2 linked regions of the Homo sapiens genome follow. The protein of the gene in region 1 purifies or fractionates together with the protein of each later gene. This does not show direct contact. Each region holds a gene or a part of one and is shown on either strand. Other genes may lie near its edges.

What was found.
Region 2: the proteins of TCP11L2 (region 1) and TUBAL3 purify together in Homo sapiens (affinity purification with mass spectrometry; one large-scale study listed by BioGRID and IntAct). This does not show direct contact.

Annotation. Positions count from the first base shown.
Region 1 is NC_000012.12:106,301,081-106,305,614, forward strand, and holds the start of TCP11L2 (T-complex protein 11-like protein 2), read left to right. Parts: upstream 1-1,652; 5' UTR 1,653-1,861; exon of another isoform or gene 1,862-3,151; intron 3,152-4,534. UniProt on the Homo sapiens protein: Promotes the migration of muscle-derived satellite cells (MDSCs) during differentiation throught interaction with FMNL2 and therefore may participate in microfilament assembly.
Region 2 is NC_000010.11:5,398,303-5,402,116, reverse strand, and holds part of TUBAL3 (tubulin alpha chain-like 3), read left to right. Parts: intron 1-1,029; coding exon 1,030-1,273; intron 1,274-3,814. UniProt on the Homo sapiens protein: Tubulin is the major constituent of microtubules, a cylinder consisting of laterally associated linear protofilaments composed of alpha- and beta-tubulin heterodimers.

The sequences.
Region 1 (4,534 bases):
GTGTGGTGGTTGTCATTTGGCAGGAATTGAAATTGGAGGCTTCTGTCATTCTGATTACTTATCCAACGAATGACACAAATAAGAGCATGTTTGTAGGGAAGAACTCAGGTGGGGACAGCACCTTCTATTTAATCTCTTAACCTGTATTATTAGGTTGTATATTTTAGGAGAAGAGAGGAAAGTGGCAAAAGGAGGCACAGATACAAATTTATACAGATCACCAGCTAAGTTTGGCCACAGTGGTTTGCCAAAGAATTTCAATAACTAATACTTAGAGTGCTTACTGTGCACCCTGCTAAGCACTTCACATGCTTTATTTCACTTTATCCTCAAAATAACCCAAGGAAATAGCTATCATTGTTATCCCCAGAGACCAAGATCTCATGGATAGTGAATGTCAGAGCCAGGACTGGAACCATAGAGGAGTCTGTGTTGTAACCACTGAACAACTGACTTTCTACCCTGCTTTAAAATGTTGCCTGTTGTTTGTTGTTGTTGTTTTTGAACGGTGGTGGCCAATCTGCCTCCACAATCCAGACATAATTTCGGCACTAAACAGAAATACTTTAGTCTATACAAACTTCATGTAAGTAGTTCCTGCATGAAACTATTTCCCAAGTAATACAGCACCGATTTACACCTGGCAGAAGGCATAGTTTTGATGTGAACAGTTGGGGGAAGCTTGTTTCTCTACACCCTCAAGCACGCCCACAGCAGGAGCTGAGCAGCAGGCCAGACGGCACAGAGCCCTCCTGGGACTGGTTATTTACATTAACCAAGGTGGAAACTTCTCCCGGAGATAGGTGCTGCCAAGAACCCTAGAGGAAGTAAGACGCTTTATCTTTTGCACGCACGCCAAGTCTTCAGAGGGCCTGGATGGGTGTGACTCCAAGGAGCTAATCGTCCCGTGCAGGTGCAAATCTAGACCCGTGTTTATGTGGAGGTGTAGACGCAACTGGAGATGACCCGGTTAGTGGCTGACGTGCGTGGGAAAGCCCACCAGCAGCGTTGTTGGTTGGGTTGTCTCTGTAAGTGTGGACAGTGTGTTGGTGGGCACCCAGTTCCGATTGCCCCGTCTAGACAGGGGTGTGCGGGCACTCAATGTTCCACGCGCGGCCGGGAGCTCGCAGTGTGGTCCACGCCAGTGCGCCTGGAAGCCCAGGGGATCTGTCCGGCACTCCACTGGAGGCTTGGCCCGCGGCTTCGCCCACCTCCCCAGAGCCCCGCTCAGCCCCCGCTCCCCCCGCTCAGCCCCCGCTCAGCCCCCGCTCAGCCCCCGCTCAGCCCCCGCTCAGCCCCCGCTCAGCCCCCGCTCAGCCCCCGCTCAGCCCCCGCTCCCCCACTCGGCCCCGCCCCCAGTGCCCTGGCAGGCCCCGCCCCCAACGCCGGGCGCTCCCGTCGGCTCGGCGGCCTCAGTTCCGTAAACACTTCTCACCCCGCCCCCGGCAGCCCGGACCGCACCACTCGCCGCGCGGGGGAACCGTGCCCTCTCGCATCCGAAACACCCTCCCATCCGAGCTGTTCTCGGCCTCTCTGGTTCAAACTGACGAAGACTGTTTCTCTAATAGGTTCAGTCTGTGAGCGCTCGGCTTTCGGAGACTGAAGGGCCCTGGATCCCCTTGCCCCGTCGCGCCGTCGTCCCCCCGCTATCCGGTTTTGTGATGGCCGCGCCGTGGCTGCCTCCCTAGAGTCCCTCAGGGCCCTTTAAATACCGCGTTGGGGGGGACACTGGGGCTGGGGGGGTTTGTTGGGCTGGTGAGTTTTCGAGGTGACTGTGCTGTGCTCGGTGAGGGGACGCCCAGAGAGCCCTGACCCGGGGTCACTCCGTCGCCGTTCTCCTCTTGTCTACGTGCTGGACCCGGTGCGTATCCATCACGGGGGAGGCGTTGCCGGCTCGGAGGTGACCGGCCAGGTCCAACGGAGGGGACACCGCTGCAGCCCGAAGGCTCCCCTGCCCTATCTCGGAACTCCATCCTGGGAAGGCGGGGTCAGGGGCCATCAAGCTCGGCTCCTAGTTCATGTCTTCCCACTCCGCGTCCCCTTGTTTGACCTCGAACTGCCGTCCCGCGTGGGAGCGGGGAGCGGGGCACCGAGTGGCCGCCCCGCGTGTCGGGGTGGACACGGACTTCGGGCCTCGGAGGCCGCTTCGCCGCTGTTTAAATCCTGCTGGACAGGTACCAGCGGCATCCCGCCATCAGGGGCCCAGGGCACCCCCTTCCCCCACACTCCTCGGCCGGGCTGGAGTAGGGAACTGAGCCAGGGTAGAGGCAGGGCGGGCCCGGCAGCGTGTGTTTGGGATTTGTTGCCGTGGTTTCCCCGGCACTCAGCTCTGCCTCCGCCGTCCCCTCCCCCAAGGGTTTGTTTTGACAGGAAACCTGGTGCTGCTGGAGGGGAGGGGCGGCCAGAGGACGTGGGTGAGGTCGTGCAGACTGCTGCTGCGTCCCCTTGCCGGGACCTTTGGTTAAGGGGAAGAGGTGGAGAAAAGCCGATTGGGCCTGGGCTCGAACGCTGAACCCTCAGGTGTTGCTTGTGCTTCCCAAAGCTGCTACTGTAGGTGGCACCACTGGGGGTAATAGCAATGATTTGAGGTGGCATATGGATGAACATAGTTACTTGTTTTCGTTACTATTAAGAAAATCTGTTCCATTAAGTAAGCAGTTTCACAATGATAGAGTTTCCTTTTAAAATAAATATATTTAAATGCAAAAATCTAGTCAAGATAGAGACGCGGTTACTAAATTATAGTAAAGGTAAGGAGGGAGACGTAGAAATAGTCATGAAGAGTGGCACTCAAACGACTTAAGTTTGGGAAATCTTAGATGGTTGTCCTGCTACCTTAACTGTGAAGAAACTGGACAAGTTGTCCTTGTCCCCAGTGGGTGTCTCAGCACCCATGGTCACCAGCCCAGTCAGGGACTTTGCTCTTCTTACCTGCCAACGGATAATGAGTTAATCTCAGTGGTTCCCACTTGAGGAGGCTCCCTGCCGTGGTCCTTTTCCTCTCTTCTCTAGGGATTTCATGCATCACCCTGACAGCCAGTGGAAGTTGCCTGATTTGAAGAGGCCCAGGGCCGAAGATACCCAGTCATGTGTGGAAGCAGCTTCAATGCCATTTTGTGAGAGGTTGAGGGCCCCAGAGGGGGAAGCACAGGTATTAAAACAAAACAGACCAGCAAGTGTGGGAGGAGTGCTTTCAAATGTGAAAAGTGCCAGGAATCCTTCTCCCTGATGCTGTAATGCCACGTGTAACGTGAACATCTGCTTTGTGGACAGTGACTGGCTTGTTGGCTTTTATCTAGCTCTTTGTTGGTTCTAACTTGATGAAGACCAGTATTGTCTAGATGAATGGTATGGGCCCCTATCCCTCTGCTCTATGGTTTTTGCTTTGCTGTGGATGAATAACTTTAGTGCTGCTATTTAAGACTGATTCTAAAGCAGCATTTTGCAGAAGATGGAAATTTTTCACATCATCTGCAATTTTTTTCTTTAGAGCCCAGACTTAGTCCTCTGACTCCCTTCCCTTTACTACACATATGTGAAGGCTTGTCCTTGCAGCTGACCTCGATCTAGTGTTGAAGGATGGTACACACTAGAAGTTTCTTGAAATTTCTTTTTTGCGTGAGCTAACCTTAACTGGATGGGTTCAATTCCTCAAGGCCCTGCTGGGTAATCTGAATATTTCACTCCAAAATGTTTATGACTGTAAGCAGTTAACCTTTTTGCTAATACGTGGGGTCTAACTAGGGATTTTGCGGTGCATAAAGAATGGCTCCCTCCTAGAGGATTTTCTGTCACTGTAGCGGGGTGGTGAAGAATTGTTTTGGGTGACGTACTCCTTCAGTGATGCCCTTCACAGAATAGCACTTGAGCAGCCATACCAGGATAAGATCAGCTTGCTACCACATGTGCAAGTGTCCACAGGGTGATGGGTAGATGGATTTGGCAGAGTGGGAGTGGAAAGAATGAGCAGCACACCAAATTTTCTCCAGCCAAACTGGAGTGGTAGAGAGCATGGGTTTTAGGGATCCGCTTCCTGGATTTGAGTTGTGCCTCTACACTGCTGTGAACCCTTGGGCAAGTAACGCAACCTCTCTGGGCCTCAGGATCTTATTATAAAATGGGGATAATACTGATACATTAGCTAACAAGGTTATAATAAGGATTCAAGGAGATAAAATATATAAAGAACTTATCATAGAACAGTTATTGAGTGCTTATTACTACCTCAATAATAAGCACTCAATTACTGTTAGCTGTAATTGTTGTTATTTGCTACACGTGAGTTTCTTTAACCTCCTGGAACTGTGGGTCTTTGCTAGTTTGAATTTTTGGTGCCTTGCAAATGCACTGAAGTAGGCACTGGGAATTGGAGAGGAGAGTCATCGCTTCCACCAGCAGCTTAAAATCTAGTGGGAGACAGATATGCACACAAGTGTAGTACTGTAAGTGACTGCGTAATGGGAATATGAGTAATGTGAGTGAGGCAGAAAAGAAGGAAAACTCAAGGTGTCTTATGAATAGGAGTGTGGCGTAA
Region 2 (3,814 bases), on another chromosome or scaffold:
ATTTTCTTTTAGATTTTTATGCCTATTTTTGAACATATTGGACATCATACTCTATATGCAATCATGCATCTTATGTGCTTTTTACTTAATATGTTATCATAAGCATTTCCCATGTCATAAATCTTTTTTTTTTGGGAAAACGTTTAAGGGTTGCATAACATGTCATTGTGTTGATGTAACATCCTTTAAATGCTCAACAATATATAAATGGTTAGATTAAATAGATTGGTTTTTGGTTTTCATGCTTATGAATTGTGATGCTTGTGAATGCCATCAGCCTACATCCTTGCATTTTAGAGTCTTTCTTTTGTAATTTGTTTGTTTATATCATTTGCCTAGCTAGTGGATGTCTTAAGTGTTTTTTTTTAGAAAGTTGATGTATATAAAATCAATTTTTATCTCTATATGTTTGTTATAAAACTTTTACATTTTGGAACTGTTAAATCTATTGCATTTTGCCTTGTAAAATTTCCCACTAGTTTTAAGTTTAGTATATCCATCCTTATTCAGAGTGCATATGAATGGTAAAGATAACATTTTAAATTTATCTGCGATGAGTTTTAGTACTTGACAAGGCTATATATTGATTTTAGTTTTATTTCTTTCCAATAACTAGCTAATTTTATTTCTAGACAAGCCCACTTGATATATATAACTACACGCACACACACACACACACACACACATCTCACCTATATTGAAAGAATAAAGTAAAATTAGTTGTATTTTGATTTGCATTGTGTGTGTTTGTCTTAATTCAATTCTTAGCCAAGTACAGAGTAGGTGCTTAATTTATGTTGTTAAAATAAACTTTTTAATGGAATTTAAATCCCAGGTTTAATTTTCCCTGAAGCTTAGCTGTACCCTGGGTCTTGGTTTCCATGAAACGCTTTTGATTATCCTTATAACACATTCCTCCGTGGCCTTAAGCTAGCTTGGTTTCTGTCATTTGTAACCAGAAGGGCTGAGTAACAGATCTCCTGTTTTCTAAACACCTGCTCAGTTCCAACTCACCATGACTTATTTTAGAGGGAGTGCCTTTCCATCCACATCGGTCAAGCTGGCATCCAGATTGGGGACGCCTGCTGGGAACTCTATTGCCTGGAACATGGAATCCAGCCAAATGGCGTTGTTCTTGACACTCAACAGGATCAGCTGGAAAATGCAAAAATGGAGCACACAAATGCATCTTTCGATACCTTCTTCTGTGAGACAAGAGCTGGGAAGCATGTGCCTAGAGCACTCTTCGTGGACTTGGAGCCAACTGTTATAGGTACAATAAATGTTCCATTCTAGCATACTTAACTGGAGCCACACTCAAACAAATCAAGTGGATGGGATTAGCAGATTATACAGGTCTATCTGAATGGAATCACATGGACCTTTCCCAAATGTAGAGGCTTACTCAGTGGCCATGGGTGATTAACATGACAAACACACCCAAAGGGAAGACCAGATTAGTGTTTTTGAATTTAAATTTATTTATTTATTTATTTTGAGATGAGTCACTCAGGCAGGAGTGCAGTAGCGTGATCTGGGCTCACTGCAACCTCCGTCTCCTGGGTTCAAGCAATTCTCCTGCCTCAGCCTCTGAGTAGCTGGGATTACAGGCACACACCATCATGCCTGGTTAATTTTTGTATTTTTAGTAGAGATGGAGTTTCACTATGTTGGCCAGACTGGTCTTGAACTCCCGACCTCAAGTGACCCACCTGCCTTAGTCTCCCAAAGTGCTGGGATTACAGGCGTGAGCCACCACACTTGGCCTAGGTTAGCCTTCTTTACCTGTGTGATGAAATGAATTAAGACCTGCTAATTGATCCACACATATATCATAATAGAACACTAAGTCTTTTCCTGGGTTTGAGAGCCATTTGCTAGAAGGCACTGGCAAAGAATCAAAAAGTTTTTCGATAGCTGCTTAAAAAGAGTAGAATATTTGAAAAGAATCCTAAAGGAAAAAGAGGCCAAATATATACCCTAGTTATGGGAAAAACAGTACAATTTTATGATTACTAACAATAGACTTGTAGTATGTCATGCAAAAACTCTTGAAATGGAGCTAGAAAAATAAAGGAGAGAGAAGGGGCTCTTACTGACTTAAGAGAAAAGCTAGACAGTGGGGTAGATTTGGGTTTGATGTTGTGCATCCCATTATTTGTTGGCGTGTAATAAACTTCCCCTACATTTAGTGGTTTAAGGCAATAATGATTGCTGGTTTGTTCATGAATCTACAGTTTGGGTGGGGCTCAGAGGTGACAGCTCGCCTGTGCTCCATGTGGTACCAGCTTGGAAGGCTCAAGTGGGAACTGGGGCATCCACTTTGAAAGTCACTCATTTACATCGCTGCCCCTTGGTGCTGGCTGTTGACTGAGAGAGTGGGAGGGGTGGAGAAAAGGAGAGGCTGACGAATTCAAGGTCATGATAAGAAGGAATTGAATACAACCCCATAAACACTTCAGCTGGGTGATAGAAGTACAAAGATGAATAAATGTTGATTTTTGCCTTCGACGTGAAGATGCCTGTCTTGGTCAACTCGGACTGCTGTATTGGAACACCATGGACCCGGTGGCTTAGACAACAGTTGTTGATTTCTCACGATTCTGGAGGCTGGAAGTCTGAGACCAGGGTGCCTGGTGGTTGGCTTCTGGTGAAGGCTCTCTTCCCAGCTTGCAGATGGCTGCCTTCTCACTGTATTCTCATATGGCAGAGAAATAGTCTGTGTCTCTTCTTATAAGGGCCCTAATCCCATAATGAAGTCTCTACCCTTATGACCTAATTACTCACAAAGACTCACCTCCAGATACCATCACATCAGGGATTAGGGATTCAACGCATGAATTGTGGGGGGACACAGCCATTTAGTCCACAGCAGCTATTGTTTACTAGTTGGGGAACTGCACAGGTATTTTCCTCTAATTCTTTCAACACTCTGTCAGGAGACATTATTATCATCCTCAATTTATAGATGAGGAACTTTATAAATCTTGGGGAAGTCAAGGAACTTGCTTAAGATCACTGAGTTATTAGAGTAGAGCTGGGTTTGGTCCTAGGTTTGCCTTCTTATTAAATCTATTGTCTTTTAACAGGAAAGTAGCCTAATCTAGTGAATAAGAAAAAATAAATAGTTATAACAACACTGTTGAAATTGAGCCATATAAAATTGCCAGTATATGACTATTTTTTAATCTAAAAAAGTTAATTGTATTGTATATGATACAACTTAATAGACATTTCTACAACAAGTGTGTCCAATAATTTGACCTCCCTGGGACACATTGGAAGAAGAAGAATTATCTTGGGCCACACATAAAATATACTCACACTAACAACAGCTGATGAACCAAAAAAAAATATTGCAAAACGATCTCATAATGTTTTAAGAACGTTTACCAATTTGCGTGGGAATGCATTCAAAGCCATCCTGGGCTGCGGGATGGACAAGCTTGCTCTGCAAGGCAGAAGGAATGAATAACCGGGGAGTCATCCAATATGTTTGTTTGTTTGTTTGTTTTTTAGAGCGAGAGAGACTGGGTCTTGTTCTGTCACCCAGGCTGGAGTGCAGTGGCGTAATCATAGCTCAGTGAACTCCTGGGCTCAAGCAGTCTTCCCACTTTGGGGTCCTGAGTAGCTTGGACTACAGGCACATGTCACTACATGTGGATAAGTTTTTTTTTTTTTTTTTTTTTTTTTTTTGAGACAGAGTTTTGCTCTTTTTGCCCAGGCTGGAGTTCAATGGCACTATCGCTGCTCACTGCAACCTGTGCCTCCCGGGTTCAAGCAATTCCCCTGCCTCAGCCTCCTGGGTAGCTGG